Regions from separate parts of the Homo sapiens genome. Here region 2 is linked to region 1. Evidence: fine-mapped expression QTL. A gene starts in region 1. The other region holds a variant in brackets. All regions are shown on one strand. Distances are from middle to middle.

Region 1 (9,957 bases):
AAAACATGACCATTACAGGTCTTGTGGTTTACATGGATTTTGAAGACCCAGTAGCTTACCAAATCTAGGAAGGCTCTATAACACAATTCCACTCCATCACCACCATCTCACCTCCCAGTTAACACTCAACCCATCTCCACCATCCCATAGGAAACACTCTGGTGCTGAGCACCAGTGACCTAATCACAGAATTCAATCTTCTCTCTTCAGTCATCATCTTATTTGGATTTCATCGGGCAACTGACACACAATGAGCCCTATCTTCTTCAAAGGCTTTTCTTTTTCCCACAACTCCACACTCACATTTCTTCTTTACCAGCCATTGCTACATGTCTCCTTTGTGAACTCCTCGGTTTCTGTCCCCTTTCATGTAGGTAAAACCCAAGTCCTATCTTCAGCACTTTGTTCTCACTCCCTGCATGATCTCAACCAATCCAGTCATTTCAACAATGTCTTCCATTCAAGTTATTCCCAGGTCACCACACCAGCCCACACCATGCCCCTGAGGAACAGGGCCTAATAATACCTAACTGCCTACTCAACAGCTCTACATAAAGTCACTCCTTCCAGACAGAACAAGCTCCTTATCCCATCTTCTTCACATTTCTTCTCAGGGAGGTTAAGAGGCACCATCCTCTAATCAAGTTAGAACATTTCATTCTCTCACCCTCTGCATCCACTCACTGCCAATTCTATCTAAAGCATACTACTCCTCTTTTTGAAGTCCTACTACTGCATCCTATTGCCTACCAAATGAAGACCAGCTTCTTAGTGTGATATAAGGTCCCTTATGATAGGCTCCTGCCTGCCTGTCAGATTCATCTCTCATTAAGCTTCTCATTGCATGCTGTACTTCAGTTAGAACCAATTACAATACAATGCTGTTTCATGTTTCTGCCCTTTTTCAATCTGTGCTCTTCACCTGAAATGTCTTTCCCCCAAACTAGCCTACACTCACATCTGACCCTTGTCTGCTTGGCAAATTCCTACTTATCAATTAAGTCTCATTCACTTCCTCCATAGGGCCTTTTCTGATCCCACCCCCCTCAGTAGATATGATGGCCCATTGCTTCTTTCATGGCTTCAAATCACTTAACTGCAATGTTTGTTTACATATCTGTCTCATCCTTATCCAATTAAATTATATTCTTTAAATTACTAATTTCATATCTGACATTTTGTCTAGCACATGGTATAAACTGAATGTGGAACAAAAACTGTTAGCAAAACTCATCATTCAGTAGTCAGGGAGAACAGCAGAATTGCATTATGCAAGATTTTACAGCAGTGAACTAAGAATCAGCTATTTTGTGATTTAATTTACCAAATGTAAATAATACAGACATAATCCAATTAGTTCTGTTCTTTTTACTCTCATGTACTTTTCTATCTTCTGATACCTTACTGCAACTCTGAATTATCTGTTGGCCTTTATATTTTTTTGCTCTGGCAGCCCCATTAAGTCCTATTATTCACTGAGTCAAAAATGTCATGCCAAGTCTTGGATGGGCCTATCCTAGGAACCTCTGGAGTCTCACTGTAGACTCTTCCCAAAATATCAGGATCTAGCTCTACTAATCTAGCAATAATCAGCCCTCATATTTATATTTCTCCTTTATCTTATATTAATCTCATTTCATCCTCATAATACAAATAATTGGTCATGTTTCATTAATAACATTTTATAAGTGAAACACAGGCCAAGAAACCCAAAGAAGATTTACCTTTTATAAGTTCACCCCATACAAAAACCTGAGGAATTCTATACTTTCTGATGTCCAGGCCTCATTTATTTCCTTTGAATACCATTTTCCAAAGTCACATCCTATTCTTGTGCTTCATCTGCCAGCACTTTGACTTTCCTTTTATTTCTGTCTCCCAAATGATCGCTTCCTGTTTGTGCGTGTGCTTCCACACTGCTGATCTGATCACCAGCTGAACATTCCAACACAATAACTTTTCTCCCCCTTTCGACTTCATAATCCAAAGACTTTGACAAAGGAATATGTATTTTATGAGTTTCACCCCAGAGTCCATTCCTCTGCAAAAATCTAAATGTAACTTTTACCCATAACCTAGTTTTTGAAGGGCCTTTTTTCTGAACTCAGGCAATTATAACTGGATGACTCCCAGGCCAGTTCTCTGCATTTGTCTTCCTTTAGTTGCTTTCCTCTAAAACCAGGCAGGAAAATCAGAGTTTATGTAACTTTGTTAAACATGACTACTTCTACAAAAATATTAATAAATGAGGGTGACACAAACTACTGGGGGGAAATGAGGTTCAAAATGGCCTATAGCTTTTTCTATACTCCTCAACATTCTCTCACATTGAGAGTTGGTTTTAGCTCTCAGCCTGAAAATTCCTCACTTTAACTGCCCTCACTCTGTTCCCCACTGCATAGTCTGTCCTTTGTGGCATTTGCCTCCTTTAATGTTAACAAAAAGTGGAAAATGATAAACGAGCAGGAGTGAACACAGAGTAGTTACTTTAACTGTGTCTTTATTCACAGGCGTTTAGCCCACAATCCCATAACTGTATTCAGAGGAAAGGGCTGAGCTCAAGAGGATACCCTTTCCCCACTCCCAGCACAAACATTCCTTTACCTTCAAAGTCTGAAAATAACTTGCCCTCCCCACTTTCCTCTTAAAAACAATGTCAGAGAAAAACAATGACCAATTCTGTAAATTAGCTCCACTGGTTAGACCAGATATCAAACAGATTCAACCCCTGGGAGGTCACTAGGCCTCTTCTACTTCCAAGAACTTCTAACTCCCATTAGTTCCTCTTACTTGTCAGTCATCAGGAAGAACATAAATGGATCTGTGCATTAACATTTATAAAAACATACAGCCAAAGGCAGGCTCAATAGCGTCCTCCTATATATTTTATTTATTCTCATTTTTCAGAAGGAAAATGTAAATTTCAGATCTCAACGGATGAGTCACATGCAATTTCTAAAGCCAATGCAGTAAGGACCTGTGATCAAGTGAACCCAGCCTTCCTGAACCTTCTGTCATCTCTCTGCCCCTCCTTTCAATCTTTGTTTTAGGTTGCAGACTCTTCTTTCTAGGTATACATGTGTAGGACATGTGTTCATCTAAAAGATTAGTCTAGTTGTAGAGACCAAAGGCATCACTTCTATTGACCCTGACCTTCGCCTACTTCAAGCAGATTTTCATTACTAAGAATCGATGTTATCAGAAGCTTAAGACTTTTCAGTTTAGAAAAATATATTCTGCATATTAGAAGTTGGGGGCTGGAGGATAAAGTTTATCTTGTCACAACTGTTCAATCTGAGATGTCCAAGAAGCAGCTTTCTGTGGAAACCTGGAATAATGGATTATTCCCAGGTGATATGTAAAGTTGTAGAATATAGATTAAGCTCATTATACTAAAAAGCCCTAAAATTAAACACAGCTGTTTGTTGAGCTCTTGCCCTGATTTCCCCAATTACAACATTGCTGTGTGTTCGCACACAAGCCTTTGATCCGATTCTCTTTCATTTCAGTCTGTCCTGGGACCTGTACTGTAGGAGAGAAAGACGAAAATCCATAGATGATGGATGATGTGTAGAACACAGATACTCTGTAATTCAAGTCTCGGTAAAATTCAGAAGTTAGAGCAACATACACAAACAAGAGGGTCTGGCCTTTCTTCCCAGAGGGGCTATTGGCTAACCTATTTTTGCTACATTAATTAAAACGACCCATCGCCCTGATTCCTAACAATCTTCCTAAAAACAGTATCTATTCCATATATCCTCCCAACACAATCAAAGTAGGTCAGAAATGTTGCTTCCTTCCCCTCATTGATTTTCATTAAGAGGATGCACTTTCTGAACACTAAATGGAAAGATAAACACCCAATACAAGAACCAATGACACCCCCTGTAAATTTTTGGCACACTGTCTCGTTCTTCTAAAAGCCAGATAAAAATCTCATCTCCCATAGTTTATCCTTTTTGGCTGTAAAACAACAATGATTACAAGCTATAAAATACACCGCGGCAATACTTCAGCCAGGTGATAAAGCACCTCCCAAAAGAAGCATATTCACTGTCTTTTCTAATTTTCTCCATCATCAACCTGCATCTTCTCTACCAAGTACATACTCCTTTTTTTTCCCCCCCAAATTCAAATCCACATTTTGTCAGAAGGATGCTAAGTGACACCATACATTGGCTTAGCAAACCCACAGGGCCTTAATCAGGAAGCTGAGGGCAGGGGAGTAGGACGAAGGCGTTTGCAGAGACAGGGGAGTGGAGACAGGGGGAGGAGGAGCGGGAAATCCTCTGGTGTCTGTGTCTGGCTCTCTGGAAAAGCTGTGATGAGATGGTTCTTCAAATCCCACTGGTGGGGCTTCCCCAGTCTCCTCCCCTTCCTGAAATCTTTCCCTCGACCCCAGGTCCTCAAACCTGGCTGTCCAAAAAGGACGCCGCAAAGTCCTGCAGAGCCCCCAAAAGACACAAGCGCGGACAGAAAAGCATCCCCCGAGAGACAGCGAAGCCACACACCCTCTCCGGGCCAGCTACCAGGGCGGGCAACTTCACCCCTCGAAGCAAACGAAAGCCCCTGTTCTCCAAGCAAAGGAAAAGGGGATGGCAAACAGAAATAAACAGGAACCGCTCTCAGCCTTCATCTTCCGCGCCCTCCCCCAGCAAACTCCAGGTAGAGGACCAGGTGCTGCTCACCTCCTGGCAAGGAGGAAGCGGGCGGCTGGAGGAGGAGGGCAGGTCCCCAGCCCAGGCCGCCTGGCAGCCGGCGAGCGCCCAGCAGCAAATCCAGGCGGGGCTCCAGGGCGGCGAGCGCCCGCGGCGGGGAGCCTCCGCCGGCCGCCCCCAGCCCCTGCCCCGTACCGGCCCCCGGGCGCGGAACAGCATCTTCGTCCGGCCGCGGTCGGCGGGCCGGCGGCAAGGCAGCCTTCCCGGGGTGCGGCGGCAGCTCCGGCTCCCGGGCCGCGACTGCTGTGCGCTCGTCTCGCCGCTCCGTCACCCGCTGCCCGTCCGCCCGCTGACAGCTCTGCTGCGCTCGCGGCCCGGGCAGCCAGCGCCGATGCTCCCGTCACGCCGGAGGGAGGGACCGCGGGGCGCGGGCGCGGCGCGGGGGCGGGACGCGGGGCGGGGACGCTGGAGCTGGGGAGCAGGTGGCGCGGGCGGGGGCTGCGGCCCAGCCCGGCGGGTCCCCAGGGGCTGCGCGGCGCTCGCCTCGCGCTAGAGGGCGAGAGAGGCTGGGGACCCCGTGGAGTAGCCTGTCTCAGGTCCCCGTGGCCCACTGGGAGGGGCGCTCCCGGGATGAAGCCAGAGTAAATACAGGACATCAGGACATTGTTTTCTGGCGGTGGGTCTTTAAAAAGCTCGCCACTTTCCTCATTGCACACAAACACGCAGATGTGCCCTCGGAACATCCCTTGTAAGGATCCATGCTGGCTAGCGTCAGATCGAATTTCTAGTTAGGGTGTGCATGAAATGGCGGGGAAGAAAGAGGACTGAGGTGTAGACGTGGTGTGTGACTCAGTTTTCTCACCTATTTAATGAAAATAATACCCACCACGTAGGATTATTATGAGGATTAAGTAAGTTGATGTACATAAAGCACTTGGAAGAGTGCCTGGCACACAGTAGGTGACATGTGTTGGTAGTAGTAGCCATAATTATTGCTGCTATTGGTGTTATTTTGTGGAGATGTGTAACATTGGGCATTAAGCCCTGTGTTTTCTGGAGGAAACAGTTTCTCCATCTGTGCGATGATTGAGGTGCTCTTCGTTTTTTCTTTCATTCAAAAACATACTGAACTAGGTGATGGTGAACAAGATGGACATAAGGCCTTCCTCAGTGGCAAGGATCTCAAGATCCCTTCTTGATCTCAGATTCTGTAAATGGGTGAGTTATTGTGTTTTTCAAAAGAAGCATCCAAATTTCTGATTATTGAATATCTGGACAAATCCACGTGGCCCACTCATTATAAGTTGGCCTGTGGCACATTTGTTTGTGGCATTATCTCTAATATCCTTTTAACAAAATTTCCACATGAAAGTCTCTGTATATGTGTGTTTGTGTGTATGTATACACATATAGATTTGTGTATCACACCTATATTCTGATTATAACAATATATGTTATTTGTAAACATTTTGGAAAATATTGAAAAGTATCAGGAAGAATATAAAAATAACTAGAGATCCTACCACCCAGAGATAACATTGTTAATGGTATTAACATGTTGAGGAATTTCCTTGCTTTTTTTTTTTTAACTCTGTGTGTACTGCAAAACTGGAATAATAATTTGTAACCTGCTTTTATTTTTATTCTTAATAACATAAATATTTTCTCAAGTCATTAAAGTCTCCAACAACACAACTTTAATAATTGTAAAATATTTTCTACTCTTTAGATACATGTAATTTACTATTAGATATTAGGCATTGTTTAAGGATTCAGTGTTATTAATAATTCTGGAAAGAATGCCCTTGGAACATAATCTGTGTGCATCTTTAAATATTTTATGATAACTTTCTAGAAGTGAAAACATTGGATCACATGATATGTGTATTTTTAAAGTTTTTGACGAATAGTGTACAAATTCCTTCCAAAAAATTTGTAGCAATTGTTACCAGCAGTTTATGAGTATTTATTTCACATCACCCTAGATTATAATACTTCAGATATTTATCATTTTGGTAGAAGAGACAAAAGCTATTATTTTTAAAATGTATTTTTATCATTGGTGACATCGAGTGATTTTTTATATATATCTACTAGCTATTTGCATTTTTCCTTCTCATGTCAGGGTGTGAGAATTTTTCACTGGCACACTTTAGCCATTTTATTGAAGTTCCATTTTTTATTGATTCGTTAGCAATCTTCATAAGCTTTGTGTATGTTTATCATATATCTTACAAATACTTTTTTGTAGTCTTTTAAATTTACTTCTGATAGCTTTTCTGGCAGAAGCTTGTCATCTTTAGGTATTCAAATGTAGCAACATTTTCTTTTGTGATTTCTTCCTTTTTTATATCTAGAAGTACACGTATCTCTGCAAAATCATACAGATGCCTATGTTTTCTTATTTTGTTATATTTTGTTATTATTTCCTTTTTATATGCTTTATTCTTTAATTCATGTGGAATTTTTAGGAGTCAAATTATGTTATGATTTTTGTCATCTGAGAAAGAACTAACAACATGACTATTAAATTGAAAACAGCTTCTTTCCTTATAAAAATAAGAGTCGTCCAGTCAATGCACTTGGATCAAATGACAATTGTAGATTTTCCAGAGTAGGACAACTTGCCACTTTCAATAAATACTTTTCTCATAGTTGTCCCATCCATAAAAAAGATCTTGACCTTGGATAATTAAAATCAGCATAAAGGCTGACAGAGAAAGGAAATTTCAAGAAGACTCTAAGGTCCTCTTCTACCTGTTATTTTAGGATGTAATAGCAAATTATTCAAAGTTTGTGATTATCTGATCAATAAATTTACTCTTAAAGATAGTTTTATAAAAATATACTTTAATAGAAAATTCATAATGAAATTTTTGCAAGAATGGGTTGAAATAGCTTACAATCACTAGGTAATAATCATTTTTCCACTTTATTTGTGCAGTGTATACCTGAAAATTGAACTGAATTTTGTTAAAAAGTCAACAAAAGCCTTAGCTGTATCAACAAAAGCCATAGCCAAAATGATGCTATATAAATAGATTTATTTTCTTTTTTAACTTAAATCAGATTGTGGTATAAATAACCCCAATTTTTATTTATTTTATTTTTATTTTTATTTTTATTATTATACTTTAAGTTTTAGGGTACATGTGCACAATGTGCAGTTTAGTTACATATGTATACATGTGCCATGCTGGTGTGCTGCACCCACTAACTCGTCATCTAGCATTAGGTATATCTCCCAGTGCTATCCCTCCCCCCTCCCCCCACCCCACAACAGGCCCCAGAGTGTGATGTTCCCCTTCCTGTGTCCATGTGTTCTCATTGTTCAATTCCCACCTATGAGTGAGAATATGCGGTGTTTGGTTTTTTGTTCTTGCAATAGTTTACTGAGAATGATGATTTGCAATTTCATCCATGTCCCTACAAAGGACATGAACTCATCATTTTTTATGGCTGCATAGTATTCCATGGTGTATATGTGCCACATTTTCTTAATCCAGTCTATCATTGTTGGGCATTTGGGTTGGTTCCAAGTCTTTGCTATTGTCAATAATGCCGCAATAAACATACGTGTGCATGTGTCTTTATAGCAGCATGATTTATAGTCCTTTGGGTATATACCCAGTAATGGGATGACTGGGTCAAATGGTATTTCTAGTTCTAGATCCCTGAGGAATCGCCACACTGACTTCCACAATGGTTGAACTAGTTTACAGTCCCACCAACAGTGTAAAAGTGTTCCTATTTCTCCACATCCTCTCCAGCACCTGTTGTTTCCTGACTTTTTAATGATTGCCATTCTAACTGGTGTGAGATGGTATCTCATTGTGGTTTTGATTTGCATTTCTCTGATGGCCAGTGATGGTGAGCATTTTTTCATGTGTTTTTTGGCTGCATAAATGTGTTCTTTTGAGAAGTGTCTGTTCATGTCCTTCGCCCACTTTTTGATGGGGTTGTTTGTTTTTTTCTTGTAAATTTGTTTGAGTTCATTGTAGATTCCGGATATTAGCCCTTTGTCAGATGAGTAGGTTGCAAAAATTTTCTCCCATTTTGTAGGTTGCCTGTTCACTCTGATGGTAGTTTCTTTTGCTGTGCGGAAGCTGTTTAGTTTAATTAGATCCCATTTGTCAATTTTGTCTTTTGTTGCCATTGCTTTTGGTGTTTTAGACATGAAGTCCTTGCCCATGCCTATGTCCTGAATGGTAATGCCTAGGTTTTCTTCTAGGGTTTTTATGGTTTTAGGTCTAATGTTTAAGTCTTTAATCCATCTTGAATTAATTTGTGTATAAGATGTAAGGAAGGGATCCAGTTTCAGCTTTCTACGTATGGCTAGCCAGTTTTCCCAGCACCATTTATTAAATAGGGAATCCTTTTCCCCATTGCTTGTTTTTCTCAGGTTTGTCAAAGATCAGATAGTTGTAGATATGCAGCGTTATTTCTGAGGGCTCTGTTCTGTTCCATTGATCTATATCTGTGTTTTGGTACCAGTACCATGCTGTTTTGGTTACTGTAGCCTTGTAGTATAGTTTGAAGTCAGGTAGCGTGATGCCTCCAGCTTTGTTCTTTTGTCTTAGGATTGACTTGGCGATGTGGGCTCTTTTTCGGTTCCATATGAACTTTAAAGTAGTTTTTCCCAATTCTGTGAAGAAAGTCATTGGTAGCTTGATGGGGATGGCATTGAATCTATAAATTACCTTGGGCAGTATGGCCATTTTCACGATATTGATTCTTCCTACCCATGAGCATGGAACGTTCTTCCATTTGTTTGTATCCTCTTTTATTTCATTGAGCAGTGGTTTGTAGTTCTCCTTGAAGAGGTCCTTCACATCCCTTGTAAGTTGGATTCCTAGGTATTTTATTCTCTTTGAAGCAACTGTGAATGGTAGTTCACTCATGATTTGGCTCTCTGTTTGTCTGTTATTGGTGTATAAGAATGCCTGTGAGTTTTGTACATTGATTTTGTATCCTGAGACTTTGCTGAAGTTGCTTATCAGCTTAAGGAGATTTTGGGCTGAGACAATGGGGTTTTCTAGATATACAATCATGTCGTCTGCAAACAGGGACAATTTGACTTCCTCTTTTCCTAATTGAATACCCTTTATTTCCTTCTCCTGCCTAATTGCCTTGGCCAGAACTTCCAGCACTATGTTGAATAGGAGTGGTGAGAGAGGGCATCCCTGTCTTGTGCCAGTTTTCAAAGGGAATGCTTCCAGTTTTTGCCCATTCAGTATGATATTGGCTGTGGGTTTGTCATAGATAGGTCTTATTATTTTGAAATACGCCCCATCAA
Region 2 (9,957 bases), 25 kb before region 1:
ATAAGTGGGATAAAAGCCTGACTCTAGTGAATTGGAAAGAGAATTGAGGAAATAAAGGTAAACAATCTGATTTTGAAGAGATCAGGAAAACAAAGCCATAGCTGAAAATTTCAGGTTAAGGATTAGCCTGCCTCTGTCATAGAGAGTGCAGAACTCACTACTATGATGCCAAGTAAGTCACATTTATTCTCCCTGTCCTGTTAGGGTGATCACCTACTGCTACAAAAGATGGATTCTAAGACGAGATAAGCCTAAATGGGACATGTCAGTCAGTCACAGTACATACCAATACCTTTTCTCTTCCTGGAACAATATAAGAAAAACATAAGCGTCCTCAAAACTTGCAAAAACACTATTAGTCTAAAAGAATGCTTATCTTGTTCTAAATGCAAACATGTTAGTCAACAGAATTCTCATCAGCTCCCACCAAAAGAAAAAAAAAGAAAGAAAGAAAAAGAAAAAATACAACTAAACCTAGCTATCTTGATGGATTTGTGATTTATGGCATTAAACTGAATTAAGTTTGGCCTAAAGCTGCCACCGTACATATTTTGAGTTTGGCATAATGGTTTCTCCATACATTATGAACTATAACCTAACTTGTGTAAACAGACTGTAATTTCATGAAAAGTAAACCCTTATAACAAGTAGCTGAGTCTCAAATCACAGTAGCTGCAGACAACCAGAGGCTGAAAGCTGCCAGATTACACCCAAAGAAGGTACATGCCAGCTGTACCAATCAAGTACTCTCTGTATGTCATTTCTTATTTTCTCGTTATATAGTCCACCAGGTTTGTAGGTGGGGGTACTCTGTTACCCCATGGTGTTGATGAAGACATACCCAAGACTGGGTAATTTATAAAGAAAAAGAGGTTTAATGGACTCACAGTTCCACATGGCTGGGGAGGCCTCACAATCATGGTGGAAGATGAAAGGCACATTTTACATGGTGGCAGACAAGAGAGAATGAGAGTCAAGTGAAAGGGGTTTCCCCTTATAAAACCATCAGATCGCATGAGACTTATTCACTACCACGAGAACAGTATGGGGAAACCACCCCCATGATTCAATTATCTCCCACCTGGTCCCTCCCACAACATGTGGGAATTATGGGAGCTACAATTCAAGATGGGATTTGGGTGGGGACACAGAAAAACCATATCACCACCTTCATCAGGAATGCTGTCTGGTTCTAGAACTTTTTTCTTGCTCAAATGTTAAATTTAACTCCTCTCAGTTTTTCTTTAACAATAGAAACATAATTTCAATTAGGAATGAATATATTTAATTGTTCATCCAACTGAACACACACAAAGACTGTTTTCATTTCCATACAGTATGTCAATGCTCATTACCATGAACTAAACAAAGTCCTCATTTTAGCCTCTGAATGAGTGGCATGAGATCCACATTTCTCACCTGCACTCCCAGAGACATGCATTCATTAATTGATAGTTAAATGATCTACAGACAGGCAAGTAAGTGAAAATATTAATAGTTCTAACAGCAGGCACATCTAATAGACTAACTGAATGGTTAGCTCCAAAAATCAAGATTTATCAGAACAGCGTTAAATACTGAATGAAACAAAGAATCACCTACAGGAATATCTCAGAATGCCAAAAATCCTTTAGTACTTACACTTACATGTTTAGACTGCTGCGGCTAAATTTTATAAAGAACTTACTGGAGTACTCACTAGTTAGTATTTAATGATCATAGATTACATTATCTTATTGGAGCTTAAGAATATCAAGTGCTATGATTACAACTATATTATGTTAAAAATAGGTATATTAAATAACAAATTGTGTATAGCCATATAGTAGACTACTACTCAGCAGAAAGGAACAAACTTGATACACACCACAATGTGAATAAACCTCAAAAATCATTATGCTAAGTGAAAGAAGACAGCCCCCCACCCAAAAAAGAGTACATGCCATACAATTCCACTTATCTAAAATTCTATAAAATGCAACTGAATCTGTAGTGACAGCAGATCAGTGGCTGCCTAGGGACAGAGTGGAGGAAGGGTTAGATTACAAAGAGAAACAGGAAACTTTTGGGGATGTTGAAAATGACTATCTTGATTATGACAATAGTTTCATGAGTGCTTACATATGTCAAAACTGATCAATTTATATACTTCAAATATATGTATCTGAGTGCACTTCAATTAAGCTTCCATAAAGATTTGTTTAAAGATTGAGGCAATGATTTAACTTCTATATAAAATGTCTGAATATCACTTTAAAGCAGCATCATTTGCTTATGAATGATGAATGAACTAATAACAAATGATTGCTATTAAGTGGGCTAATATCTGTAAAACACTTACAGCAATGCCTGAGCCATATTAACTGATAAGTCTTAAAAGAAAGAGGTGTAAGGAAGAGAACAAAAACAAAAAGATGTAAAATGACAGAATTACACATCAATTTGTCCATCAATTTTTATTCTGAATTTTCTTTGGAATATAGTTTTCCAACAACAGAAAAAGGCCATCTGTTTTTGAAGTTTTACAGATTTCTGGTTTAAGATGACATCAGACTAACAAATCTCACTCTCACCTCTTCACGTACATCCTTCACTCCCAGAAATGTACAGATAAAAACAGAGGCAGAAAATGCCCTAGGTCCAGTACCTATCATGTGCTTCTTCACATAGAAGAACCACAGACAGCTCTGTTTCTTTAAAACATTCTCCTAATCGAGAATCTAATAGACAGAATGAGATCCTCAAAGTTCATCAGCATAGCATAAAAAGGAAGTTTCTCAGACAACAGAAACTGGACTAGGAACTCTGCACAGACATGCTATCAAGACAGGAGGACCAGTGGCTACCTACACACCTTGTGTGTGAGTAAAACACAGCAGTACATAAAGCTTTCCTTGTGAAAATGTGGAATTAACATCTACCTTGGAGGAGACGAAAGATTTCTGAAACACATGAGAAAAGGATCTCTACCTTGAAAAAAAGAAATCATGTGAAAATGATTGGCTACTGGGAAAAACTGTAAATAGCTGCCTGGTACACCTAATAAGATTCGATCAATAGCCTCTAAGAATCAGTCATGGAGAGCTGTAAGCATAATAGATCAGTTCTGTGTAGGCAGAGTGGGAGGTAGTGGAGTTCAGTGGAAAGTGAGCTCTCTGGAGACAAATCTATCCCAGCTTTATGGCTCACTAGCTTTGTCATCTTTTGTAAGTTATTAATTGCCTTTGAGCTTCAGTTTCTTCATCTCTGAAAGCAGAGGCATGGACTTCTGTGAGAAAAGTGTTTCACACATTAACTACTCAATAAATGGAACTTGTTATCAAAAAAATCGAAGATAATTAACTGACAAAACGTTAGAATTAATAAGACAGCCCTGTAAGAAACTAGATACACAATTAATTTCTAAAAACCAGTGGCTTTTCAACATATCAGGGAAAAATCAATTAAAAGGTAAAGTGGTTGGCAGAAAAATGTCATGGAAAATAGTAACATAAAATAGTTCAGAATACAAAGATTGTGCTAGTGAGAAATACAGAATGCCTCAATAAATGCTAAAACAGACTGTATGTCTTTAAATGTGAAGATAATACTAAAAATATGACATTTTTTCCAAATAAATGGGCGAACTTAAGAGAATCCAAAAAAAATTTTTAACTTTTCAAAATTATTCTGAAGTTGAACTGAAAGACTAAATAAGTGAGAACAGCTGAGAATGAAAGAAAATTAAGTGCCACCATATAAAACTATATTATAAAACTCTGCAATCTGTA[CA/C]AAAAAAATCAATAGTGTAGAAAATAGCTCAAAAGAAATTGAATAAATGTGCATATATATAATATAGCACATATTATATATAAAACAATAGCTTATAAATTTTTATATATCCACATACACAATAGATGGTATAGAAAACAGACCAACAGAAAAAGGATGAATTATGGATTGTTCAAAACACTATTTGTAAAAACTGGTTATTCAGGGAACAAAGTCAGAGACATATCAAGTACTTAATAAAATTCTTGAGGAATCAAAATAGGGGAGTAAGTTCATGTCATATTTTTAAATGCCAAAAAACATTACCAAACTATATGTACATAATATTACCATTTTGTAACCATATGTGTACACTGATAATGAAATACATGCAAAGGACTTTTGATATATGTAATAGAGGCAGTATAGTCTGATGGTGAAAAGTATGGGCCCTGGTGTAGCAGCTTGGATTCACAAGTAACTTAAACATGGGGAGAAGATGCGGCGGTTCAAGCTTACCAATTAGAGTTAGGGAGATGAGTGAGTTAATAAATAAAAATGCACTTAAAATTTTACCTGGCTATTGTTATTATTTATTATTCATATTACAAATACTAAGATGTTAAAAGTGGCATGCTTATTTAGTGAGATTATGGGTGTTTTTATTGCTGCATTTTTCTGGAATGCATATATTGCTTTTAACTTTAAAAGGTGACAAATGTAGAAAAAAATGAGATCATTAAAAAAAAACCTCAAGTAAATGATCTTAATATTTATCTGCTCTTTAGATAGGGAAGCACTTTCCTAGCATAACAGGCTCAGATATGTTTAAGCATCAATTATTATTTTGGTTCAAGTTATTTCCTGCTATGCATTATTTATATGCCTAAGAATTATCAAGTAGAAGTCTGCATTACATTTTCAAGGGTCAGTTCTTTCTGCTCTTAACGTTAGGAGGTAGGGTTAAACACCAAAGGGCACTGTGTTTTTACACTGTAGCATTCTTAGAATAAAGTGCTAAGTAAGACAGAATAAGAATGTGTGTGGCCAGGCGCAGTGGCTCACGACTGTAATCCAAGCACTTTGGGAGGCCAAGGCGGCTGGATCACCTAAGGTCAGGAATTCGAGACCAACCTGGCCAACATGGTGAAACCCCGTCTCTACTAAAAATACAAAATTAGCCGGACATGGTGGCGTGTGCCTGTAATCCCAGCTACTCAGGAGGCTGAGGCAGAATTGTTTGAAGCTTGAAGCAGGGAGGCAGAGGTTCCAGTGAGCCAAGATAGCACCACTACACTCCAGCCTGGACAAAAAAGAGTGAAACTCCGTCTCAAAAAAAAAAAAAAAAAATTGTGTGCTAGCTACGACTAATGCATCAAGGTCAAATATTTATCTTCTCACCAGTTACAGTAGGTATGGATATACCCCTGAGCAGTCATTGAACTGCCCCTTAAATCCAGCATAGTGAAATTGTCAAAGTTCAGTAAATTAGAACTCATGGCTCCTACACATGGAACCTAGGTTTGCAATCCATCCAAAGAAGCAGCTCTGCAATTTTCAGAGTATAAAGACAAAGCTCATGGCTTCTGCATATGTAAAACACCTTCTAAGATGAACTAAATTCTGCATCCTTTTGTCTACTACCCGCTAATCCAAATCTTGTCCTCTAAATGAGCATTATAGCAATTATAGCATTATGACTGCACTTAATATATTTGAAGCTCATGTCATGGCCCCCTCAAGTCTACTCTAAGCTAAACAACCCCATTTCCTTTGGTTAGTTTCCCGTGACGTACTTTCCAAATAACTAATCTTCCTAATTCACATCTCAAGCCAATGTCACCCTTTGTCAATATCCCTCTTCAAATATTGCATCTAAGTTGAACTAATGACCTAATATAAATGTCTACCTTCCACAAACAAGGCATTCTTCTCATATAAACAGAACTCAAGACCCTCCATCATTGCTTTTGCAGCCATATGACAGCTATGGCTTCAGAAGTACTTTTAAGTAAAATTTTCCCATTCTATGCTTGAACATCTGATTTTCAGAACCAGAAAAGAACAGTCTACATTTAAATCAATTATGTTGGATTGCCCATTATTCTAGCCTTTTGAAATCATTTTGAATCCCAATTCTGTTTTCCAACTCATTAGGAATCCTTCTCAGCTTTCTGACTTTACAAAATTTGGTTATGCCGTCTCAAAACCCAAGTATTATTTAAAATGGTAATAGTAAAACAGTAAAAGGACAGAAATTAGATATTAAGCACAAAAGTATTGCATTGGAGATGTTCTTTCAGTTTAGCATCACATACATTAATAATCTTAGTATACATTTGTTCAAATAGCCAGGAATCTGCCTAATATTCCGTCATTCATCATATACTATGCATTTTGTCAATAATGATATGACAATTCAAATGTCTCACTGTAGGCCAAGCATGGTGCCTCACACCTGCAATCCCAGTACTTTGGGAGGCTGAGGTGGGATGATTACTTGAGACCAGGAGTTCAAGACCAGCCTGGGCAACAGGGTGAAACCCTGTCTATACAAAATAATAATAATAATACAAAAATTAGCAAGGCATGGAAGCATGTGCCTGTAGTCCCAACTACTCGGGAGGCTGAGGTTGGAGGATCACTGGAGCTCTGGGAGGTCAAAACTATGTGAGCTGTTATTGTACCACTGCACTCCAGCCTGAGTGACAAGGAGACCCTATCTTTAAAAAGGGTTTGCTGAACTATTCACAATAGCAAAGTCATGGAAGCAAGCTAGGTGACCATCATTGGTGGATTAGATAAAGAAAATGTGGTACATATACCCCATGGAATACTATAGAGCCATAAAAAACAACAAAATCATGTATTTTGCATAAACATGGATGTAGCTGGAGGCTATTTTCCTAAGCAAAGTAACACTGGAACAGAAAACCAAATACCGTATGTTCTTACTTATAAATGGCAGCTAAACATTGGGTACTCATGGAATTAAAGATGGCAACAATAGACACTACAGACTATTAGAAAGGAAAGGGAAAAGCAGGGGCAAGGGTTGAAAAACTGTTGGGTACTATGGTCAGTACCTGGGTGATGGGATCATTCATATCCCAAACCTCAGCATCATACAATATGCCCAGATAACAAACGTACAAATGTACCCCAATCTAAAAGTTGAAAAATTAAAATAAGAAAACACCCTGAATATTAAAAATCACCCTGCCTATATCATACTCCAGATTTACGGGTCTCCTTCCCATCAACCTCCAGTCTGCTTCTGTGCTAATGCTAATCCTTCTCTACTGGCTGTACCTTCTCAGTTTCATCCTCAAATGCTTCTCACTCTGCTTGCTTCTTAAATGCTGTTGTTTCCCTAAGCACTCTCCTCAACACAGTGCTCTTGCTATATGCTCAGAGCCTAAGTGACCTCATCAACATCAATGGCTTCAATTACCTCTTATGTACTCATGGCTCCCAAGTTGTCTCTCAGCTGCACTCCTGTACATCCACCTGTCTTCAGGAGAGCACTGTTTGTGTGTGCCCAGGGTACTATAAACTCAGGATGTCCAATGCTGAACTCATCCTATTTCCCGCCCCCACCACCACCTCCTCCTTTTCCTTCTCTCAATTTTTTTATCTCAATAAAAGACAGCAGCATCTACTCAGACCAAAAACTTATAAGTCATGGTAGACTGAAATGTATCACTCGGTTGCAGACTCCTGAAAATAAGATGTCTTTAATAGCTGTAAAATCCATCTATTCTCTCCCTCTCCATTCATACTGTCATGTGTTTAGTTCTGTTAGTTATTTTCTCCCCGTGAGAGAGGCAAGAGTCTCCTAACTGATCTTCCTGCGTCCAATGTGATTTCCCTTTTATGTTCCTTCATTTGCCAACAGAATAATCTTTCTAATTTGATGTTAATAGCGCTTCATAGCTTGCCTCGCAAGACCTTCAGTCTCTGACACTTCTGCCACCACCACCCACGTGCCCTTCAAGTTGGCCCTTGAAATTATAATATTATTTAATTCCTCTTTGATGTTATACATGTTATTTTCTTTGACTGAGATGTGGTGGTCTCTGTGCATCCTGTAAAGCACTACTATAAATCCTTCCAAACTCAGCTGAAACATCACTTGCTCTGACACCAGAGTTTCTTTAGTCTGATTTAGTTGCCTCTTCTCTGTGCTTCTATACAGCCCTGTGAATGACTCCATCACAGCACTTAACCCATCTGTACTATCATCATAGACTATCCTATAATTTTTTCCTGTGAGATACATGCTAGATGAGCTAATAAACATATGAATGGCAACTGAAAAAGAAGTAACAGAGAATGAATAGTCATGAAATATCTAAAACACACTCTTAGAACCAAGAATACCAATCCAAGTGCAAGAATTCTTGGTCACTTTGTAGCTGCTTCCATATTTTTCTCAAACACCTGAAAGCCTTCATATATTGTAATGATTTAATAAGGTATTATGTACCAAACATTCTTTTTGGAAATTAAGATGTATTACAGTTTGATATGTTAAGGGAGGTAATTCCATATACCTTTTTAGGGACTAAATAATTGCTTTCTCTGGATATTACATATCTCAAAACACACAGATAAGAAAAAGTCTAGGGAAATATATATTATCCTTATTATACTAAAAGCTTGTATACATAACGATGCAAACACCTAAATAGGAAATCTCACAAAAAGTGAAATACAAAAAGCTAAGTGACACGAAAAATATTGACCTTCATGAGTGATTAAAGAAATGCACATGTTAGGTCACAAAATAAGTCTTAATACATTCAAAAGACTGAAACAATATCAAGCAGCTTCTCTGGCCACAGTGGAATAAAACTAGAAATTAATAATAAGAGCAATTTTGGAAACTATACAAATACATGAAAATTAAACAATATGCTCCTGAATGACCAGTGGGTCAATGAAGAAATTGAGAAGAAAATTGAAAAATTCCTTGAAACAAATGGTAATGGAAACACAACATACCAAAACTTATGGGATACAACAAAAGCAGTATTAAGAGGGAAGTTTATAGCTATAAGTGTCTACATCAAAAAAGAAAAAAAACTTTAAATAAACAATCTAATGATGTATCTTAATGAACCAGAAAAGCAAGAGCAAACCAAACCCAAAATTAATAGAAAATAATAAAAATCACAGAAATAAATGAAATGAAGAAAATACAAACGATCAATGAAACAAAAAGTTAGTTTTTTGAAAAGTTAAACAAAATTGACAAAACTTTAGCTAGACTAAGAAAAAAAGAAGATACAAATAAATAAAATCAGAAATGAAAAAGAAGACATTACAACTGATACTGCAGAAATGCAAAGGATCATTAGAGGCTACTATGAGTAACTATACGCCAACCAACTGGAAAACCTAAAAGAAGTGGACTAATTCCTAGACTCATACAACCTACCGAGACTAAACCAGGAAGAAGTCCAAAACCTGAACAGACCAATACCAATGAAATCAAAGCCACAATAAAAAGTCTCCCAGTAAAGAAAAGCCTGGGACCCAATGGCTTCACTGCTGAATCCTACCAAACATTTCAAGAAGAACTAATCTCGGTCCAACTCAAGCTATTCTGAAAACCCAAGAGGAGAGAATACTTCCAAACTCATTCTACAAGGCTAATATTACCCTGATACCAAAACCAGACAAAGACACATAATAAAAAAAACTACAGGCCAATATCTCTGACGAATACTGATGTAAAAATCCTCAACAAAATACTAGCAAAATGAATTCAACAACACATTAGAAGGATCATTCATCATGACCAAGTGAGATTTATCCCTGGGATGCAAGGATAATTCAACATACGCAAATAAATCAATGTGATACATTGGATCAACAGAATGAAGGATAAAAGCTACAAGATCATTTCAATTGATGCTGAAAAAGCATTTAATAAATTTCAACATCCCTTTATGATAAAAAAAAATTTAAAAACTAGGTATAGAAGGAACATACCGAGGGAGGAGCCAAGATGGCCGAATAGGAACAGCTCTGGTCTACAGCTCCCAGCGTGAGCGACGCAGAAGACGGGTGATTTCTGCATTTCCATCTGAGGTACCGGGTTCATCTCACTAGGGAGTGCCAGACAGAGGGCGCAGGTCAGTGGGTGCGCGCACCGTGCACGAGCCAAAGCAGGGTGAGGCATTGCCTCACTCGGGAAGC

Evidence for each region. PIP is the estimated chance that this variant, and not a neighbour inherited with it, causes the effect.
Region 2: its variant is fine-mapped to the expression of ELAPOR2 in whole blood (TOPMed, PIP above 0.99). The same link has a PIP of 0.9 or more in blood mononuclear cells.

The regions. Positions count from the first base shown.
Region 1 is chr7:87,054,634-87,064,590 of GRCh38, forward strand. ELAPOR2 (endosome-lysosome associated apoptosis and autophagy regulator family member 2) reads right to left here and starts at 5,021. Exons shown (of 22, transcript NM_001142749.3): 1 at 4,692-5,021. The coding sequence starts at 4,880. RefSeq lists an enhancer at 3,983-4,483 and silencers at 4,749-4,818, 4,909-5,298.
Region 2 is chr7:87,030,006-87,039,962 of GRCh38, forward strand. All of the region lies in intron 1 of ELAPOR2 (endosome-lysosome associated apoptosis and autophagy regulator family member 2), which reads right to left. Among named protein-coding and RNA genes, the nearest start is that of ELAPOR2, 25 kb to the right of the region's middle. The variant CA/C (reference allele first, on the strand shown) is at 3,771.